3 linked regions of the Homo sapiens genome follow. The protein of the gene in region 3 interacts with the protein of the main gene of each other region in a pairwise test. Each region holds a gene or a part of one and is shown on either strand. Other genes may lie near its edges.

Region 1 (7,146 bases), on a different chromosome or scaffold from region 3:
CTTGACTGAGCCATGAGATGCCCAGATATTTGGTTAAACATTATTCTGGTGTGTCTGTGAGAGTTTTTTCCTTTTTGATAAAATTAACATTTGAATCAGTAATAAACTGAATAAACAGATGGCCTTCCCCAATTTGTGTGGCCCTTGTCCAATCAGTTGAGGGCCTGAATAAAACAAAAAGCCTGACCCCTCCCCTGGATAGGAGAGAATTCCTCTTGTTGGGCTGTCTTCAAGCTGGGACACTATTTTTTCCCACCTTCAGATCAGACTGAAACATTGGCTTTTCCTGGGTCTCAAGCAGGACAGCATCAGAACTGGAACTGACACCATAAGCTTTCCTGGGTCTGGCCCACCCTGCAGATCTTGGGACTTGCCTGCCTCCAAAATTATGCAAGCCAATTCCTTATAATAAATCTCTTTTTTAATAAGCAACTCTTGGTTCTGTTTCTCTGAAGAACCCTGACTAATACTATTAAAAACAACTTGGGAGAACACCCATTTCCAGAAGGCTCCTCTGATGCTGGAAGAGGCCCTGCCGGACACTGAGCAGAGGAGGTTGAGAGGTGTGACTCCCACCTCCCCACCTGAGGACTAGGAGGCCTGCCCCTCCTCACAGCTCTCAGTGCTTCTCAGGGACCACAGAGTCAAATCCAGGACGTCTGAGCACATAACGGGACCCTGAACCACTTGGCCATATTTGGTATCACTGTTAAGCCCAAGGCTGCAACTTATTAGTCAAGAACATGGTGTGCTCTCCAAGCACTGAGGCGGAGGCACCACCCAGACCTGCACAATTCTAGAGCTCCACTAACACATTTGTAAGTTCATTCCTGAAGGACAGTCACCACGTGCCAACTTGAGGCCCTCATTCCCACTGCGTGAGGAGGGCCTTCATGTCTAGAAGGAATTTGGACATCCAGGCCACTGCTTGACCCACACCAGGGCAAAGGCAGGCCCACACAAGTCCACAGAAGAGCAACAGGCAAAACCCGAAAGTCTGGAAACCACTCCTAAATAGTGCAAGGCGGGGGTGGGGTGCAGATGGCACTGAGCTGATGGCTGTTGAAGTTGGGTGGCGGGCCATTTGTCCCTGGGGCCTCATTTTACCATTCTCTCTATTTTGTTGTGTTTATATGTTTCCTATGATGATGTATGTTTTAAAATCCTCATAATAAATGTTTAAATTTCATAAAAGGGTGGTTTACAAGGCATGTTACAAGGTTGGCAGGTGACCTTGCAAGACAGGCAGGGCTGCAAGCGGAGGAGGTGGAGATCAGTGTGAGGCGGGTTAGGCTCCCTCACCCCTCCTGCCAGGTCAGGGATGGGCAGGACAAATGGGCTCAAGGCTCTCTTTCTCCTGCTGCCAGTTTTTAGGGGCCTTTCCTGCTGAGTGGGTTGTGGAGGCCTTTTCCTTGGGAAGATCCGAGGCGTCCAAACCAAGACTCAAGAGGGAGAGGCAGCAAGGAGGGATGCGCTAAATCCTGGGTGGTGAGGGGCTCCTGTTTGGGATTCGACATGGTACAGCACAGGGGCACATCCAGGAACTAAACAATGTGCCTGGCATGGGCCAACCTGTATTTTTGCCAGCCTGAAGCATAGCTCATGCAGTCAAAATCAGCAGGGAGGGCCCACCATGGCCAGAAGAGACACCTGCACTACTCACTTTAATCCTAGAAAGATGCATATGTCGGCCTGGCACAGTGGCTCATGCCTGTAATCCCAACACTTTGGGAGGCTGAGGCAGACAGATCACTTGAGGCCAGGAGTTCAGGACCAGTCTGGGCAGCATAGGGAAGCCCCATCTCTACAAAAAGTAAAACAATTAGCCAAGCATGGTGGTGTGTGCCTGTGTCCCAGCTATTCGGGAGGCTGAGGAGGGAGGATCGCTTGAGCCTGGGAGGTCAAGGCTACAGTGAGCCATGATCAGGCCACTGGATTCCAGTCTGGGCGACAGAGCAAGACTCCATCTCAGAAATAAACAAGTGCATATGCTAGGGAATAATGGAATACAGTTGGCCCTCCAAATTCATGACAATATTTTTTTAAATACATGATAAAAATAAGAATACAAAAATTAAAAATAACACAAATCGAACAATGCAGTATAACAAATATTTGTGTAGCATTTACATTATAATAGATATTCGTAATCTAGAGATATTACATTTATAGTATACGGTGTATGGAAGATGTGCATAAGTTATTTGCAAATACTGCACCAGTTTATATCAGGGACTTGAACATGCTCGAATTTTGGTATCCATGGGGTTCCTGGAACCAATCCCCCTCAGATCTCAAGGGATGATTGTACACAAACCCCTCATAATTCACTTACATTTTGTCCATCTTCCGGAGGGACAATAAGTCATTGTGAAGGGCTGTGTCTTCCAGGCAAAGAACACTCAAAACAACTAGGTTTTCATCATTTTATCTTAAGAAATAAAAGCCATCTGTGACTCCTGCTTTGGTAAACTGTAAGAGGCCCAGAGTATACAGTACCTCTGCTAAATACCACCTTAGGGGTAAATTCCTTGTCAACAGAGCTAGAACCATATTTTGATTTTTTTTTTTTGAAAAAAACAGAAAGTTTCTATTTGGGCAGGTGGCAGTGGAAATTTTTAATGTTTGCAAAGCAAAAAGCACTATTGTCAGTAGATTGCCAAACAATTATATTTAATGGAATTTGATAAAATGAAGTTTGTCAGAATGACCTCAGAGTAGAGAGCACTTCTGATGTGAGGCTGGGTGAAGGCCAAGTTCCAGAGTTTGAAGGGTTCATACGAGTTTAAATTCTTGAAATTTGGAATGGACTGTTTGCTTCTTTTTCTGCCTATTCAATAGACGAAAGTGAGCAAAGCCTCTTTTGAGGGGTTCTCCACTTCGGGGAAACCATGCATTTCAGATGATATCCAAGGATGGCTTCAAGTCTGAAGTAAGCAGCATTATAACAATGAGCTCTTTGAACATTTTTCTTCTTGGTTTTGAGGAGCTTCAGATATCCAGACAGCTGCTGAGGCATCAGGCACCTGGAAGCTCCAATGGACAGGGTAAGGCACCTGCTCAAGCTGTCTCCTCGATTTCCCTTTTCTGCAGCTTCTTCCAGCATCTAGGCTTCACTGCAGATCCTCACAGGCACCTGGGCTCATGGCTAGAAACCCAAATCTTCACTAGATGGCAGTGGTATCTGCCAGACCAGCTGAGGTGCAGAGCAAGGCATGTCTGAGCCCAGAATCCATAGATCATAGAATCCATGGATCTAACTAAACTGCTGCCACCTGCCTCAAAAAGAAACCCGCCAGAGGTGCCATCCAGAGCTGAGAAGATGCTCGCCAGCCAAGAAGAGCAGTGCCTCTTCCAGTCATGTCAGGTGGTACAGGAGGGCTGAGGTATATCCGGCACCTTCTCACCAACTCTCCTCACAAAGACAAAGAAGATCAGCATGGCCTGTAACCATGGAAACATGGCCTTTGGCCCCTGGTATCTCACTGGGGTTCAAATGGTCCAAATAGGGATGCCTAATCCCTCTGACCCCAGTGTAACTGGTGCCACTCTGCTTATTTATAACCGTGACTGCTCTGCAACTCTGACGTGGCCACTCAGGGAAAATTCACCAATTCTAGCACTGGGAGACATGGATTAATTACTCCCAGTGGACCCTCAGTGGATCCTTGTCACACTGTTGTTGTTTTGGTTGGGAGGGGAGAGGCAAAATCACAGTGGGGTCAAAATGTTTTGTTTTGTTTTTTAACTCAACAGAAAATGAGTAATTATGAACTTGTAAGACCAAAACCAACTTGTAAGGCATATTGTGCAGCTGCACATCCCCACACCCCATCACACACACACAGACACAGACACACACACACACGAAGACACAGACACACACAGACACACACACACAGACACACACACACACAGACACACACACACACGATGGTCAACATCCACCCACTCAGTAGGCTGTTCCTATGCTCACTGCCTCCCACCTTAAAGATATTATTTTTCCACCACATACTATAGAACTCTTATGATAAATTGCAAAATTGTTTTCTTGTCCTTTACCCAGGAAACACACATAACTGGTCATTTCTTTCCATTGCATCTGAAACCATTTTATTTATGAATTAAATAATTCACTAACTCTACTGCCCTTGGGTATTTTCATTGAACATGCTGGCTCTTCCTTGTTGCTTTCCTCTGAGCCCCACCATGGACTTGGATCCTTGTACTGCAGGGTCTGGCCCTGGCCCCAGTGATCCAGCAGGTGTCCATCAGGTGAGCACACTCCTGATACTGCAGTGTGCTTCCCTGGGCCCGTCTCTTCCAATTACATTAGATGCTGGTGCAAAAAACAATACAGATGCCACCATTTCTGCCTCGGCCAGGCCTCCAACCCATAGAGACCAACCCCAGCACAACCCTGCCTTCAACTTGCTGCAGCCAGGGACAGCCAGGTCCAGAGAGGTGAGCTGACTGCTCTAGCCCCACACTAAGCTGGCGGTGGAGCTGCAGCCCAGGTGTCCTGCCTTTCACCAGTCCAGGACCTTCACCAGGCCAGGTGTCTGCTCTAATGTCCCCTACCCTAAGCCAGGCACTGCAGGCCAGCAGCACCGGCACATCCTGCAGGGCCAGCCTGTTGGCTGGAAAGCCAGTCTTGCAAGTGGGTTCACGTGTTTGCTGCCCAGGCTTTCTGTTCCCAGGACTCTGCTTTAATGATAGTAATCATATATTCCTCAAAACTATGACATATACTCAAAGGTAAGACACCGTGCGGAGGCAGAGAAGCAGCCATCTGTTCTTTATAGGATGGAAGTTTTGTCGTAGCTTATCTTTTTCTTAAACATGAATATAAAAGAAATGACTGAGATAATTGGGTATTTCTAGAAATATGACATTTCCTATTTTCTAACAAGAAAGAAAACAGCCCCCATCCAAAGTCATCACAAGTCATCTACCTGTGGGCTGTGGGGTGTGTGTGTTGTGTGTGTGCAGTGTCTGTATGGTTGTGTGTGGGTGCATGGTGTGTATGTGCATATGTGTGTGTATATGTGAGGTGTGTGTGTGGTTTGTGTATATGTGTGTGGTGTGTGTGTGCCTTTAACACATCTATGTTTGTGTCACATAAAAAGAGACAACTCACTATCCAGATCAAATTAATAACTTTATATATTAATGTCAAAAGAAATTCTTAAACTATTTTTCAAACCATTTAGATATTTACGTGTAAGCCATCCATATCATAAGATTTCGAAAGAATTTTGAGAAAAAAATCAACTTTTTAAAGTTCAACTCCACATCAAAATCAATTTTTCAGTCTAGAGGTAAAATAAAATTCTACAATATTATAGTAGAATTGATATAGTTATTTTAATATAGTTAAAATAACTTTTGTATGATCTTTGCTCACAGTTACCAAAAGAATACAGCTCTGAGAAAATGAAAATTTAAGATATTTTTATACACTTTGTCAAGTGAAAAAAATTAAGAATAAATTTTTGAGTAAATGTAATTTACGAAGACCACCTATAAAAGGCAGTAGAGCATTTACAAATAAAGCAAATGATTTATACCACCCCAAATATCATTAGATGCACAAATGGGAGTAATAAAATAATTTTTAAAGAGTCCTTGTAAAAACAGAGCTTTGTTCCAAAAGGGAAGCATATCAGGAAGGGTCCAGTGTATCAGGAAATAATGCAGTACTTTTCTGATCGTTAAATCTCCTATAAATAGCTCGCCATTTTCACTGTCAGTAAATATACAACACTCCACAAGCTGAAACCTATGTAACTTCGCTGGAGCCTTCACAGGTGTTTATGAATGGCGTAATCTGCTGGCTCACTGAATGCTGACGCTGTTGGAATAGCTCTGAGCAGTGGGCACCTAAAACCATTGCTTTTACATTGGGCCTCCTGATTCTTGCCCTTGGCACTTGGGTCATTTCTAAATATGGTCACTTCTTATCCTTTTGAAGTCTGTGCTGTGATGTGCTCTAAGAAGGAGCCCGTCTTTTGGGGACCACGCTGGGGCCAAAGGCAAACCCGGTGCAGCCCACACAGCATTGCTTCCTGCTCCAGCCTCGCCCCTCCAGCAGGCAGTTTCAGAGCTGAATGTCAAGGCTGTGCTTGTCTTCAGATGGCCCACTGGCTCTTTAAAAACTGAACCCCTGCCTCCTGTCCCCTGCACTGTTCATATTCCTTCCTACAGTTTCCCCACCGTGGATCTGAGGACAGAGAAGGTGGAGGACCAGGATATTGCCTTTTGAACCTGCTAAAGACCAGCAGCCTCCTTGAGTGATTGGGGTCCTACCCAGGCTTGACTTTAGGATAAGATAATTTAAAGGTGGGCAGCACCGTAATCAATACTCATTGGTATTTCTTTTAGGTCCAAATATCAAATACTTTTAAAATGGAAATTTAATGAAAATAGTCATTGTTCTTTGCTGTTGGATTTTTCTTTTCTATCAAGAGCATAGTTCCTTGTTCTTTCTTTTACGTCACCAAAAGAAAAAAGGAAATGTCAAGATACTTAGGGGAGTAAAAAGGTGCTGCCAATGAGGCCCAGCTGAAAAGAATATAAACCTCTAGGCAGAGTAAGCTGCAGCCTTTCTGTGTGCATAGCCCCATTCTGTTATTTAGCAGCAAACTCAATGATGGACCAATTAGACATGCTTTGAGCTTTGAATTCTACTGTTGCTCAGGAACTTCTTCCATGTTTAAATTTTAAGTCCTTCATTAATTCACATTCTAAGCTGTTGCTCAAATAGTTTAATGTTTCCTAGATGATCAAAATTCACCAGACTTCTGTATTTTACAGTCCCTGTTCTCAGATTAAGTTGAAATATTTTTGAATTATAATTCATATGTGCAATATCCTAATATCACCTGTAAGTAGGTATTTCTTTGAGGGGGAAAATCTATAATACAGTATATAAATTTTCCAGGAAACTAGAAAACATTTGGGGGCTTTATTTTTAATTTAGAAAAAAATTATATCAAAGAGAATAATGCATCCTTTCCCAAACCCTAAACCTTTATATTTTACTATTGGTATCTAGTCATATGATAAAGATGGCCCATTTCTATCTACCAGAAATCTTTTAAAGTAAGGATACCGGTAGAACTATTCAAAAATTCTAAATAACGC
Region 2 (7,146 bases), on a different chromosome or scaffold from region 3:
AATTAGGGTGACTAAGGGAGAGGAGCCTCCACCCACAGGGCCTCTGCTCTGGGTGAGATGTGCTAGATCTTTCCAAAATGTCCCTTAGCCCTCCAAAAGTCTTTCATGAGCTTTTCTGTAGTGTTACTCAAACAGTCATATGTTTTATAGTCTATATGTTTATTTCCTGCCACTACTAGTTGCTCCTTGGAGGCAGGACCTGACTACCTGGTCTCATCCCTTTCTCTCTCTCCCCCCAGCATCTAGCACAGGGCCTCACGAAGCCAGCATTCAATGTGTGCTTGCTGAATGCATCATATGCTTGGGGTCTACGTGCTCTTCCACACATTGCTGATGAGTGAATCTGGGCTCAGAAAGGCAAAGTAGGTTGCTCAGAATCATACTAATGACAGACAGATCCAGGATTCCCTGACTTCAAGTCCTATGCTCTCTCTAGCAAGCAAATAAATATTCAAGTCATGTCTTAGCATTGTCAGGTGTACCATGTGGACACACCCTTGCTATCCACCTCATGGAGGAGGTGACCACTGGTAGATGCTATTTATACTTTTCTGGCGTTGCATTCTCTGACTCAGAAATCCTGAATGCAGCAGGACTGTTGCAACTGGAATGTTGGCACCCTAGAGGTAGCTGCCCAGGATGGCTGGGTGGGTGTGTCTTTGGACCTCTTCCAAGGGCTCCATCCTCCCAATTATCCAGAATGGCCTGCATTCCTGCTGCCACCCCCACAGCATCACCCGTCCACCCAGGAGGCTCCCCACCCTGGACAGCACCTCCACGGTGCTGCTGCCCAGCACCTGGAACCCTTGACTGTTGATCAGCCAGGTCCAGTGGTGATGTCAATGCAGAGCACTCTGATCCTCAGGCCAATTTGTGCTCTTATCTTATCCCTGCACCTTTTTTCAAAAGACCCTTCCTTTTGGAAGATCTCAATGAAAGCTTACCTGGGCTGGCTCTTCTCCACCCTGGCTCGCCCTCTGTGGAGGACTTGGTCTGTGGGCCGATACCAGGTCCTGGGCAGCCGGCAGAGGCACTAGGGCTTCTCCCTGCTGTGTCTTCCTGTGGTAGCAGCAGTGGCAGCAGCTCTCTCGCTTCCTGTGGTGTAAACAGGAAGCGAGACCATGTCAAAACGGTAGCCTCAAGCTGTGAGAAGGCGAGACACGCTTTGATTGGGACGGAAAAACGGATATTGAGCTGCTTTCAGTGAGAAGTTCATCAGCAGCCATGTAAAGAGGATTCTTTTCTCCTTGGTGCTGACGTGGCAGAGCCAGCACCTCCTAGACATGCAGAGCATCCCTTGACTTCCAGCAACCTGGTATCCAGGTCATGGGCTCATACTGTTGACATACTTGAAGACCCTGACTCTTTATGATAGGAACAAAAGGCTTTGAGTGTGGAGGGACTGGCATTGCTTCAGTTACAACTGCATCTGGTGAACTACCCACCCCGGGAGGGTATAGGGCAGCGTAGAAACAAGGCAGCAAAAAAACCTGGCAGCTAGTGTTCCCTAAGGTTAGAGCACTCAGGAAAATGCTTGTCAATTGCTGTCACTTGTTAAGCACTCTTCAAATATTTAGTAAGTGTTCTGCAAAAGATGACAGATACTCAGCACCTGTGCCATTGCTCCCCTCTGTGGCACCTAGGGTGACATCCTCAATCTGTTGCAGAATTGTTTCCACCACTGAGCCTGGATGCAGCCTTGGGGTCCTCCCAAAACAGCCTAGGGACAAGATGAACCAGGCTCTGAATAGCTATGCAATACTTGAAGAGTTTGGATTATCACACAGTGTGCTTAAGGTACTGTCAGGGCCCAGAGGAAACAGAGAGACCAGTTCCATCCCAGAGGTGGAGAAGGCTTCCTAGAGAAGTACTTTCTGTCTGCTTCATAAACAGAGTAAGAATTTTGCAGGCAGAGAGGCAGAAAAATAGTGTTCCAGAGACATAGCCCAACCAAACATAATACCCATCTGGAAAAAAAGATTGAGAAAGCAGACATCATCAAAATGATGCCACCTGTATTTGATTGTCTGCAAGAGAAATGCTTTGCTATACTGCGGTGGCCTCCACGTCCGGTTCATTCCAGATTTGTGTAATGATGGGCCATTTGACATGGCTGCAGGCTTCCTTCCAGAGAGGAAGGAAAGAGGAAGGAACAAATGCATCCTTTGGGACTAAAAAAGCAATGGCAAATATCCATGACCTGAAATTTAAGATCTACATTGACAATAAACATTTTGGAGGAAGCAAAGGTCTACAAAAGTTAGAAGTGTATTCACAGAGCATTGCCTCAGCTCGAGTTCCCTACTGTAGAACTGAGCTTTAGGAGAGCATTATGAAATACTGAGAGATCAACCAATTTCAAAGGAATCATTGAGCTTCTCGAACTAGCCCTTAAAAAAAGTAAGGCTGAGTCATGGCATTAGAAGCTCCAAATATTGGCCTGATGATCTCTAAGTCTCTTGTCCACAAGAGAAATTACATGGGGATGAAATTTAATTTCACCTGGTTGGGAGCTCTGTAAGTTGACATCTGTTGACATTCATGAATTGTTAGCTCTTTTACAGGCAGCCACATGTGATACCAACTGCAGTCAATGCAGCTTTACAACTTAGAACAGCACAAATGTGTTTTGTCTTTTCATCAACACATCCAATATTGCATCCTCTTCATGGGAGACTTCAGAATTAGCCCCTGAAATAAATTTGATTTTACACAAATTTTTCTCTTACTAGTGTTTCCTGGAACCATGCTTGGTGGATGAGGGAGGGAGAAGAGAAAGAAGGAAAGAGGGAGAGAGCAGATTCAGCATAGTGGGGAGAAAGTACGTTTTTGTTTGGTTTTTTTGTTTGTTTTCTAAGAAAGGATTCTTCGAAAATCCTGTTGTGTTTTTTTAAGCAAGTTTTTTAAAGCACGGGGGAGAGTTTAGGCTGATTTTTTATAAGAGGGATGTTAGTTTTTTGTTGAAGAAAATATCCCAAAGTTCATATTGGTTGTGAGAGTTAAGTCCCCTTGAATTAGAGTAGATGGGAAAGACTTGGGGGTCATCCATAGCAGCTTGACAACAGTCTTGGGACCCTGTAGAGAAAAGACTGCAGGGAGGGAAAAGTGGGAGAGTGAGACAGTGGACACTGTGGCCACGGAAGAAAACATCCAGTGAGAAATCCCCAGGAATGGTCAAGGAAATTTTGAGAGTGACCTCAAGCAAATTGCTTCCTGTTTTCTATTGCGTGCTATGATCCTTTCTCTGTGACCCCCGCCTCTCCAGTGCCCAATAAAATTATGTCGTGCTGATTGCTTTTATGGAAATGTTTGTGGGAGAAGGATCTGCTGGCCACGTGGGACAGACCAGAGCAAACAGAGGAGGGCAGCTGCAGAACGGCCTTGTCTCCAGGAGACGGTGCTGTTGGGGGCAGGTACAGGAGGGAGCCCTGTATTCTGCTGAGGCACACAGGGCATGAAAGATGACCTGTGGGAAGTTCCTTGCCTGGGCTTCCCTGAGGACACCCCAGTTCCTTCTCCAGACGCCTTACTCGGGAATATTCCCTGACCCTATGTGGCTCTGCCAAGGGCATCACTGGGACAGACCTGCTGTGGCAACTGCACTCCTTTTCTGGGCCTCCAGGAGGAAGGCAAAATGACTGGCTTCTCAGCTGGCTGCTCCTGATTTGCCCTTCTGGACTCATAGGTCTCAGGCCCAAGGGAAAATGAAATATGGGCTTAAAAGAGGGGGTGGGAGAACAGATCCATCTGATAACTCCATCATGTGTTGCTAACCAGCCACATCCTGCCAGCGCTCTGCAAAACTGCACTTCCTTTTTAGTAACCTGGCTTCCTCCTCCCTCCTTCACTTTCACCCCTCCTACTCAACATCCCGTCTCCACCGCTACCCCTCCTGAAGCTTGCCAACCCTCACTGTAGATTGTTTTAGGGGATTTCCAGAGGCCCCCTCCCACCTGCCCACGGTGTGCTTAAGGGAAGGGCCAGGGCCCCTGCAGGGCCATTCCGTGATGGGGGAGACAGCTTCTGGGTAAGGATGGGAAACTCAGCATTGCATAGTGGGTAACTGTGACCCACTAGCAATGTGAACTTGAGCGAGTTTCTCAGTTCCCTCTTTGCACAACTGGGACTCTCACCATCAGGTGGTTGTAAGATTTAATTGACACAATGTACATGAAAGTACTCAGTGTGGTTAGCCTGCGCATAAAATGGTTCTAGACACAGCAGCTGTCTGTCAGTCAGTCTGCCTTTTATGCAAGGGGTGGAAAGGAGGGCTTTAAGGGGCCTGATGGGGAAAGATCATGGCAATGAATGCTAATATGCCTGAGATGCTGTCAGGTACTTGCCTTAAGTGGTTACCTTTAATCCTCACAATAGCCCTTGGAAGGAGCCACTCCTCCCGGGTTTAAGCAATTCCCTGCCTCAGCCTCCTGCGTAGCTGGGATTACAGGCACCTGCCACCATACCCGGCTAATTTTTGTATTGTTAGTAGAGACAGGGTTTCACCATCTTGGCCAGGCTGGTCTTGAACTCCTGAGCTCATGATCCACCCGGCTCAGCCTCCCAAAGTGCTGGGATTACAGGCATGAGCCACCGTGCCAGGCCCCTTTTTAGTTATTTAAGCCACTATTCTCCCTACAAGCAGGACACTCAAAGATCCACATGCAAAGACTGAGACCCTGCAGGGGCCCTGGTATTTTTCCTTCATGGTGAGTGAAAAATGACACAAGAAAGGAACCTTAAATTCCAGTGTGTTATGGGTGGGAACCCAGATGCCAGCAAGCAGGACTGGGACTTCAATTATCTGTCAACCTTCAAACCCATCTTTTCATGGTCAGTCCTCAGCTGAGTCCTAGGCAACAGTTTCTCTCTGGTGGAGCAGGAGAAACTTTCATTCTGGCCCTGCTAACACTAACTTGCTAATTTGCCCATGCTCAAGATTTGAGTCTGGTCCTGGAAACACTCAACCTGTGGACCCATCCTCTTACCTGGCCACAGGTGGGTGGGGTGTGCCCAGAAGAGCATGAGGAGTTCTCTCTCTCTTCCAGACTCTTCTGAGGGTCACTGTCACTTTTAAAGTATTTTCTGGGTGGAGGCTTGGGCTTGGAGGACATAGGCTTTCTCACCAAAATCTCAAAGGATTTCTTCAGTCTCAGCGGCGGGTGGCTGTCCCGGCTCTCTGGGAGGGGTGGGCTCTCCTGGGGCAGCCTGGAGGATGCTATAGAAAGCACCACTGGCTCCCGTGCCAGAGGCAAGCTGGGGCTGTGTGTGCTGATGTCCACGTCAGAGGACGGCTTCTCAGCACTGCCACTCCCAGGACTTCCCCCTGGGGACCCAGACATGTAGCTGCTGTCACTGCTGGAGCGGATCATGACCTTCTGAGCCCTGCGATGCGGGGGTGCTGAGTTCTTCTCTCGTTCCTTCTCCAAGGTGGGCCGCCCGTGCCAACTGCTTTCCAGCCTTTTGACACCTGTGTGGGAAGCACAAGAGAATCTTCACAGCTGAGCTTCAGAAAACAGAAATACCCCCTGGCCTCACCTGTGACTGCCACGGGCAGCACACTGCACATCGGCCATCTGCTTCTTATCTGAAGTCACTGTGGATCTGGAGTATGGCAGTCTTGGTGTTGGTCCCTGGCGAGCTGTATGACTTTGGGTTGGGAAAATCATTCAAGCTTTCTGAGCCTATGACTGATGTATATGGAGATATGCCACCCAGATCACCCATCGAGGAAGGGCTTGGTGTCCCAGCTGTGGGGAGTGCTGCTGGCAGACTACTTTCAGCTGTGGGTCCCTCCAGGGGCTGCCACAGCTGCAGACAGCTGCCTTGTCCAATGGGGCAGCCCATCTCCAGGGACTGCTGGAGATAGGGTTACAGAGGCCCAGCTATGTTGGCCAACATAGGACAACTCTAATGGGGACTTTGGCTGCAGAGCTCCAGGGCTTGGCTGAAGCTGTTGGGTGTGCACCTCAGCTCCGTCCTCCCTCTGTCTACCCTGCCTGCTCCCCTCCCTGCCACAGGTAGTGAACCCCAGGACACTGCCTGCAGACCAAACTCCATCTCAGAGTCAGCTTCCTGGGGGACCCAACTCCATTTCTGCATCTGTAAAATGAGGATGATAATTTTAAAGTCACTGGGGTTATTTTGAGGCTCAATAACAAAGACAGAGAAACTACCTGTCAAGGCACTTTGAATCTTACACGAAGAAGTCACTATTTCTTTCCAGTTGAGGGTGAGGTGAGGGCAGAAAGCCGCTATTTCTTAGCCACTGCACCTTCCTCCCTCCCTCCCCATTAGCCCTTCCTGGTTCTCAGTACCCCCTACCCTAGTTTCCAGCACTAGGGCTACCCACACATCCTTGAGAGGCCCTTCTCTCTAGTGGTAAGCTGTCAAGGGTGCCCCTTTCCTAAAATCACAGCTTGAAGGGGTGGGAGAGGATTGAAATCTAGTCTCTTGCTCAAATTCCAGCTCATTCTGAGAGACCAAGAAAGCCAGAGGAGCCCCATGAGAGAGAACCAAGGCCAGCCAAGCTCCTAACTCACTTTCTCTTTAAATAAAAAGTTTTCTTTTTTTTTTTCCTGATCATGAAATAATGCATCCTCCTTAGAGAAAACTCAGCCACAAGGAGGAAGGAATGAAAGTAAAAATTCACTTCACCTGTGTTCCTATCAGCCAGAAATAACTACTGTCAAAATTTTGGTGAGTTTCTCTGTCATGCTTTCCCGAGCATATATGCATGTTGGGTGGGTAGAAATAATAAACCAGAGCTGAAATAAATTGTGTTCTGTTCTTTTCTCTGAACATTTCCCCAGATCATTTAATTTCTTGTCAATATCAGTGCCAATGGTTGCATGTTGTTCTTTCATAAGGATGTTCCATGGTAGACGTGATTAATGCCCAATGGCTAGGCATGGGAGTCAAGCCAGCTGGATCTCCATTCCAGAGCCTCTGTGCTCTAGTGGTATGACTTTGAGTAAGAGAGTCTCTGAGGGCCTCACTTTTTCTTATAAAATTTGCATAAAAATTATGTGTGAATGCATGAATTAGCATAGTCTCTGATTTATTATAAGAATTATAAGAATTAAATAAATGTCAGAATTATATTCCCAAATGTTAGTTTTTCTAATATTCTATTATTATAAACTAGGG
Region 3 (7,900 bases):
AGCAATCTCAAAGTCCAGGCCCCACTTGACGATCACAGCTCTCAGTACTCACACAGCTGCTACATCACATCCTGCTTAGCTCGCTGCAGGGCAGCCTCCAGCCAAGCCAGCTTGCCCTTGGTGCTGCCAGAGCCACCCTCCTCCTGCAGAGCTGGCGGGTCCTTGACTTCCTCTAGTTCACAGGGCGTAGGGAGCGAAGGGTAGACCAAGGACAGAAGGACATTATTGGCCCTCACTCCTTCCCCCTTAAGGATCCAGACCTTGCTCTGAGGCTGCAGAGCCAATGAGGGATTGGAGATTGTCCATGGTTGCAAGGAGTGAGCACACCTGTTCCAAAACTTGTGTTTGTTTGTCTGTATGGCAAGATGAAAAGAACCTGCCCACCTGTCTACCTTCAGGGTGAAGATTTGAAACCGGCTATCTAGGATGGCTGAGAGAGAGCCTTTTACGTCTAGTATGGAGAAACTCCTAATATGAGCCAGGATCCCAGAAGCATCCAATGCTCTTTGGCATGTAATGCTGTGGTTATTGTTTCCTAAGGAAAACTAGCAAGAAGAATATCCATTCCTCACGGGAACCTAGAGTTTATACTCTTCAGGAGGAAAAATAATAAGACCTTGGTGAAGTGTATTTGCTGCTTGGGGAACCAGAACAGCTGTGGCTGGTGGGACCCTGACCATGATGGCCCACCCACTCACTCTGCCCCCTCAGAACCTCAGCAGCTTATCCCTTCTCAGAGTCACCCATTCCTGTACAAGGGAGATCTCTCTCCATGAATACCCTTCCAAGCCTGAGACACTTGCATCTGCAGAAAGCAAGAAAAGACCGGGAACAGAAGCCCTTCCCTCCATGGAGTGAGACTTGAGCCAGCGGGGGTGTGAGAGGGCTGGGAGGTGGGTGGGTTAAGAGAGGAGGCTAAGAGAGAATGGGAGAAAGAAAACATCCTGGAGGACTAGCTCCTTTCTAAGGCTCACAAATGCAAGTGCTTGCAGAGGCCTAGCTGGAAGCATCAAAAGGTGAAGGCTAAATATACATCAGGAGTACCCAGTTCCACAAATACATCTGCCCTCTCCCATTTCCTGAAATCACCAGCACCTCTTTTATATTTTCAGACTTGCATTTCTCTGGCGACATTGACTCAGCACCTTTTCTCTTCTACAAGGATAATAACTTGCAGCCAGGACAGTGATAAATGGCAAGGGACCCTCTGCCTCACATCCAAAGGATGGGATTGGGAGTGGTGGGGACTGCGGCACACCAGGCAGCCTATACCGCATGTGAAGAAGAGAGAGATGATAGAGGCCTCTCTCCTCTAGCCAAATGTTGCCATTTGAGAATCATAATTTAACATTGCCAGATCTTCACATTTTGAAATAGAACCCAGAAAACTGGGTTTCTAGGTAATATCTTGCAATTTCTGAAGATGGGCTCAAATGTAATACTGAGCGAGAAAAACAAAACACAGACATAAAAATGAACATACACAAGTAAAAAGATAATAATGTACAAACAAGCATATATCTTCATACAGATTTACCTACATGTTCATTACTTACATAAAATACACAATGTCCTAGGCAGAGGTAAGCATGATATATGCATGCAGCTGCACTGCTGTATGCTTAGACATTCACTAAGAGAAAGTGTAGCCATCTAATCCAAAGGGTAGGTGGGGAGGGGCAGTTGTCATAAATAATGGTCACCATCCCACCATGGCCACTCTGTTGCCCCCCACTCCCACCTCTCACCTGACTCTCAGCACTGCCCACCTCCACCGTCAGCCACTGGATGGCCTGATTAAGCCTGTTCAGATCCTCCTTGCTGGGCTTCAGGCTCTGCGTGTGTTTCTGCACAGTTGCCTTTAATTCCTCACACTGTGGAGCAGACGGCAGAGGGGAGCTGTAGTCAGGAGGTGAGGAGGCCAGACAGGGCTGCCCATCCACCTGCTGTCACCAGTGGTCACCTAGCTTCTCTGGGCATCCCTTTCTCCATCTGTGAAATGGGAGTGATCATTTTTCCTATCTCCAAAGGTTGTTGAAAGAACACAGTGAGCTTGCCTTGTGCCCATGGGGCCAGAAGATGCCAAAGGAAGCCTGAACTCAGGCAGGAAGGGCAGCAACACAGGGCAGTGATCTGTTGAGGGGAGCTTTGGGACCAAGATCACATAGGGTTTATCCCAGGAACAGGGAGAGTTAAACTCTAGGAAACTGATTATTGTAGTTTACAACATCTAACCATTTAAATTAGTACAAAAAAAATTAATGAAATTCAATATTTCCTAATTTAAAAAACACATTTTAAAATCTAGGATTAGGAAGAAATGTCCTTAATTTGAATGCCATTAATCAGAAACCAGGGACAGTGATCTAGATTCCAGCTTCTTCCCCAAACCCAAGGCTGCTATGGGAAGTGCTGTCTATGAAATCAGGGGACCACTTCCCTTCTTGCACCTCGCCCCCATGTGCATTCAATACACGAATAGCCAGGGAACAATAACTCACACTTGCACAGTGCCTGATGCTTTTCACAAGCTTTTACTCCACGATCTCACTGGGGCCTCACAACCACCCATGAAGTTGGCCAGATGGATGTGACTTTTCCCATTGTCTTTCCTCAGGCAAACTGGGGCTCATTCCATCCACCACGTGCAAGAGGGGAGTGAGTGACCCTGCCAGCCGACAGTTGAGCCAGACTACATTTTAAGCCCATGCTCTTTGCTCTCCACCAAGGTTATACACACCCCCTCAACCCAGAGAGCAAGAACTGTTCACACCAGCCCATTGCAAACTTTCTTCTAGGGCAGATGGAGTGTGGGGGAACAGACCTCAAAACATCATCTCAATTTCTGCTGTGTTCCCACTGCCCCCAACTTTTCTGCTCCTGTTCCCAAAAGCTGTATGCCCAACAGATCTGGGTGAAGTCCAAGACACCTCATCCCTGTGTGACCAGGGAGCCACGTGTATGAGTCTCACCATGGAGAAAGAACTGTGGTCTCCTCCAAGCCTCTCTTGAGCACCAAAGCCCAGCTTCAGCCCAAGAGCTACCAGAATCCTTGCCACTGAGGACTAGGGCCTCTTCTTCCTGGGGGCTCTGTGACCTCATCTCATTACAATCACAGAGTTCTGCCCAGGAGGCCTCAGGGGCATAGGGTAGAAGAGGGCCATACTCTGACCCCAGGTGGGAAAATGGAAGTTTCTGGGCTGAAGTGGAACTTAAAGGAAAGTGGAGGAGGGGAAGGCTACCTCAGGTGGAGGAAATGTGTGGAGCTGAGGAGCTTAGGCTTATGGATGGGCACTGGGGAGCCACAGAGGGTGTCTGAGCAGGACAGTGGCCTGACATGAGATGTGATTGTCTAGAAGCAGTGCAGAAGATTGACAGGAGGGCAAGAAATTGGGACTGGGGATGCCAGTCCCAAGACTTGGTAGGAAATCTTGGGTAGGGCAATGACTTTAACCTGTAGGAATGAGTAGGGGCTAGAGAGCACAAGCTGTGGTCAGCATTTTCTTTTTGTTTTATAAATTTCTCATATATGCAAAAGAGTATGCAAAACCTACATTTATTGATTTCAATAGCAACAATAATAAAACAAATCCTTGTGTACCCACCAGTACCTTCAAAGCCCCCTGCGGGATTTTTGCTGATCCATCTCCAACCCCATCTGATCCCCAAAGTAACCACTGTCCTGAGTTTTTATATTGGTCATTCCCTTGCTTTTCTTTATTACTATGTCATAACGTGTATCCATAAACTAGTGTTGAGTTTTGCCTACCTTTAAGTTTTATATAAATAGAATTACACCTTGTACATTTCTATGACTTGCTTTTTCCTCCTCAACATACTAGTTTTGAGATTCATCTTTTTGATGCATGTAGTTTTATTTCTCAGTGTTGTATAGTATTCCAAAGTATGACTACATATATATAGATAGATACAGATATAGACACACACATATACATATATCTCTATTTTCCTATAGGTAGCACATGTGTTTTTTGTTTTTGTTGTAACAAACAATGCTGCCATGAACTTTCTTGTACATATCTGCTGGTGGACCTCAACAAGAGGTTCTTTGGGGTACTAGTTGTCAAACTGTTTTTTAACCTCAACTCTAAATAAGAAATATATGTTGTATCATGAATCACTACCTACGTACAAATACACCACATCTACTGAAATAAGTTTCATGGAAAAATCATTTACTTCTACTATGTGTAAGGCAATCTGATCTAACCAATCACCTTAACACATTCTTTTACTTTCAACTTATGTCCTCATGTTTTAAGTTTATTTCTTATAACTAGCATATTACTTTATTATTATAATATAATGAAAATGAAATACTCATGAACCTACTTACTGATCCCAAAACTAAAATCTTACTAGTAATTTACATTTAGCTCCATGCTCCTTCCCTACCCTGTCCTCTCCTAACCACCCCAGAGGTAACCACTTCCCTAAAGTTGATATAATTCCTTTGTTTTTTCTTAGCTTTATCAAATACATGCATATGCCTCAATATATATTTGTTTCAGTTTTTTTGTTCTTTTTTTATAAAAAGTGTGTCACACAGGGTCTTGTTTTATTCAACATTATGTTGCTAGTATTCCTCCATTATAATATTAATATTCCATTCTTATAGTATTCCATTGTGTAACTATACCACACTTTAGGTAATTCTATTACTGTTTTGTTTTGTTTCTTTCTCTTACAAAGGTGGTGCCATGAACATTTTTCTACATGTCCTCCGATGCACATATGTGAGGATTTGTATACAACTACAAACAGAACTTCTGACTCATAGGATGGTCAGAATCTTATAAAGGTGTTAACTTTATAAGATAATATAAAATTATTTTCCAAAGTTGTTATAACAATTCACACTTTGCTCAGCAATGTGAAAAAGATTCGTATCCTCTTTAATGTGTCTTAATTTTCAACAATTAAATAATGCAATCTCATTTTTGGTCTTGCTTTGTATTTTCATGATTACTGTTAAAGTTTAATATCTCTTTAAATGTCTATTACATGTGTATTTCCTTTTCTTTTGTCCATTTTTTTCTATTGGGTTTTTGCTGTATTCTAAAGGATTATAAGTGTTCTTTATATTTCTGAGTATTACTATTATATCACTTACATATATCACAAATATTATCAAGTTTACAGCTTATCTTTTCACTTTATCACCTATTTTGAAAAATAAAGTTGTTAGTTTTAATGTAATCTAATTTATCAATCTTTTATGTTGAGCATTTTATGTGACATGTTTAAAAATCCTTCTCTACACCAAGGTCAGAAAAATATTCTCCAATATTTTCTTCTAAAATTCTTAAAGTTTTGCTTTTGACATTTGTAATTTAAATTAATTTGAAACTGATTTTGTGTATAAGAGAAAACAGGGATCTAATTTTATTTTTTACATGTGGTTAACCAATGCATAGTCCTTTTCACTACTGATCTGCCATACCACTTCTATTTTACAACAAAATCATTTACTTATTTATAAATAAATTTAGGGGCTATTTTGTTCCATTGGTCAGTTTGTCTATTTTTGTGTGGGTACTATACTTTCTCAATTACTATAACTCTATAATACATTATAATCCCTGAAAGAGAGAGTACCTATTTCTTCCTTCTCATCATTCCTTAGCTGTTCTTGACCTTTGTTCTTCCCCATAAATTTTAGAATCAACTTGTCAAGAATTATGTAAATCTTCATTTGGAATTTGAGTGTAGTTGCGTCAACTCTGTAGATCACTGTAAGGATAATTAACATATTCATGATAGTAAAGCTTCCTATCTAAGAACATGGTATAGCTCTTCATTTAATTATGTCTTCTTTATCTTTTCTTTCCTATAACATTTTGTGTAACGCTTATATTTCTCTAGGTGTAAGTCTTTCACATATGTGTTAGATTTATTTCTAAGTATCTTATGCATTTTAAATCATTATTTTATCAACTTAATTGACATATAATTTGCATACAATTGTATCTCAATAAAGCGCACACATTCTAAAAGTACAGTTCAACAAATTTTGACAGATGTATGCTCCAATCTAATCACCACTGAATGAATCTAGTTCATTATTTTTTGTTGCTGAATGATATTTTATTGTATGACTATATCTCAATTTGTTTATCCATTCATCTGCTGGTACACATTTGGGTTGTTTCCAATTTAGGGCTATTATAAATAAAGCTTCTATAAAATTCATGTACAAGTCTCTGTATAGATCTGCTTTTATTTCTTTTGAGCAAATACCCAGGAGTGGAATTGCTGCATCATTTGATAAGTGCATGTTTAACTTCATAAGAAATTGCCAAACTGTTTTCCAAAGTTGCTCAATCATTTTACACTCCACAAAAGTTTCAGCTGATTCACACTTGGTATTGTCAGTCTATTAAATTTTAGCCTTCTAAAGGAGGCAAGAAGCAAGGAGGAAAAGAAGACCAGAGAAGGGAAGGGAAGAGCAAGACAGCAAGGGAAGCAGAAGGTTGAAAGATGGTTGGTGAGAGGCTATCCTCTTCGTGGGTTCAGTCAGGTCAGAATCCTCAAACAGAACATGCCCATGGGCTACGTGCCACTCCTCTCAATAGCCTTTCTCAGCTTGAGGGCAGCAGGGGCCAAGGAAGAGAGATTCCCACACAACAAGAAGTAAGAAGTGGGAAGCAGACAACGTGGATCAGGGTGGGTCAAGCAGTGGCGCCCTGCCACCAGGCTGCACAAGGTCAGGTAGGGCCAGCTGGGACCCTCGCAAGGGTGAGAGGCTGGGCTGGGTGCATCCTCAAGCTCTGCCAACTTAACACTTCCTGTAGCTGCTGCCACAGGCCCCATCCCACAGGAGCTGATGCCGCAGGTGCAGGTGGCCAAGAGGCCCCCACAGGCAACCCCACCAAGGAGCTGCTCACACCTGCACAGAGACAGCCATAAGAAGTTAAACCCTTTGGTCGGGGTGGGAGCTGGTCCCAAAAAGCCCCACCTCCAATCAGCACTGGCTTCCTACCAGCTGGGAGCAGCCAGGAGGATGGCTTCTTCTCACCTCCATCTCCAGGGGTGAAGATGGCATTGCTTCCCTGTAGTCTGTGCGAGGGACTGACACCCTGACTAGGAGGGACTCCATCTTGGGGTTTAATCTCAATCCCTTCTTTTTTTTGTGAGATGGAGTCTCACTCTGTCACCCAGGCTGGAGTGCAGTGGCACGATCTCGGCTCACTGCAACCTCCACCTCCCAGGTTCAAGCAATTCTTGTGCCCCAGCCTCCCAAGTAGCTGGGATTACAGGCACGCACCATCATGCCTGGCTAATTTTTTGTATTTTTAGTAGAGATGGGGTTTCACCATGTTGGCCAGGCTGGTCTCAAACTCCTGACCTCAAGTGATCCACCTGCCTCAGCCTCCCAAAGTGCTGGGAATACAGGTGTGAGCCACCACACCCAGCCTCAATCCCTTCTTTCTGTAAATATGAGCTCTTACTATATTGCCTGGGCTGGTCTCAAACTCCTAGGCTCAAGCAACCCACCTGCCTCGGTCTCCCAAAGTTCCAAAGGGATTACAAGGGTGAGCCACCGTACTCGGCTGAGACCCTGTCTCAAAAGAAAAAAAAAAAAATCAGGATGACCTTAGGATCCACAACATGTGGATTTGATTACAGCTCATTCAATCCACATGTATTTAAAGAAGATTAAATGCATGTTTTAATCCAGTAAAGTGACTGACATCTTGAACATGGACAAGTATGTTTGGACAGGGAGAGAATAAGAGCTTCCTACTGAAGGGGAGAAATTATAATTTTCCTCAACCCACATAAATTCGTAGTTGAGACAGACTCCTGCAACAACAGACAGATTAACAAGAGAAAAACAAGCAAGTTTACCAACAGGAGCAGTGCACGTCATGGAAGG

What was found. The genes of interacting proteins can lie anywhere in the genome.
Region 1: the proteins of KRT86 (region 3) and SHC3 interact in binary tests that used the Homo sapiens proteins (3 or more experiments, as listed by UniProt).
Region 2: the proteins of KRT86 (region 3) and IL16 interact in binary tests that used the Homo sapiens proteins (3 or more experiments, as listed by UniProt).

Annotation. Positions count from the first base shown.
Region 1 is NC_000009.12:89,168,675-89,175,820, forward strand, and holds part of SHC3 (SHC-transforming protein 3), read right to left. Parts: intron 1-7,146. UniProt on the Homo sapiens protein: Signaling adapter that couples activated growth factor receptors to signaling pathway in neurons. Involved in the signal transduction pathways of neurotrophin-activated Trk receptors in cortical neurons.
Region 2 is NC_000015.10:81,290,877-81,298,022, reverse strand, and holds part of IL16 (pro-interleukin-16), read right to left. Parts: intron 5,468-7,146; coding exon 4,986-5,467; intron 3,006-4,985; exon of another isoform or gene 2,692-3,005; coding exon of another isoform or gene 2,641-2,691; exon of another isoform or gene 2,575-2,640; coding exon of another isoform or gene 2,503-2,574; exon of another isoform or gene 1,096-2,502; coding exon 945-1,095; intron 1-944. UniProt on the Homo sapiens protein: Interleukin-16 stimulates a migratory response in CD4+ lymphocytes, monocytes, and eosinophils. Primes CD4+ T-cells for IL-2 and IL-15 responsiveness. Also induces T-lymphocyte expression of interleukin 2 receptor. Ligand for CD4.
Region 3 is NC_000012.12:52,269,795-52,277,694, reverse strand, and holds the start of KRT86 (keratin, type II cuticular Hb6), read right to left. Parts: upstream 3,051-7,900; 5' UTR 2,976-3,050; coding exon of another isoform or gene 2,973-2,975; exon of another isoform or gene 2,618-2,972; intron 1,875-2,617; coding exon of another isoform or gene 1,749-1,874; intron 1-1,748.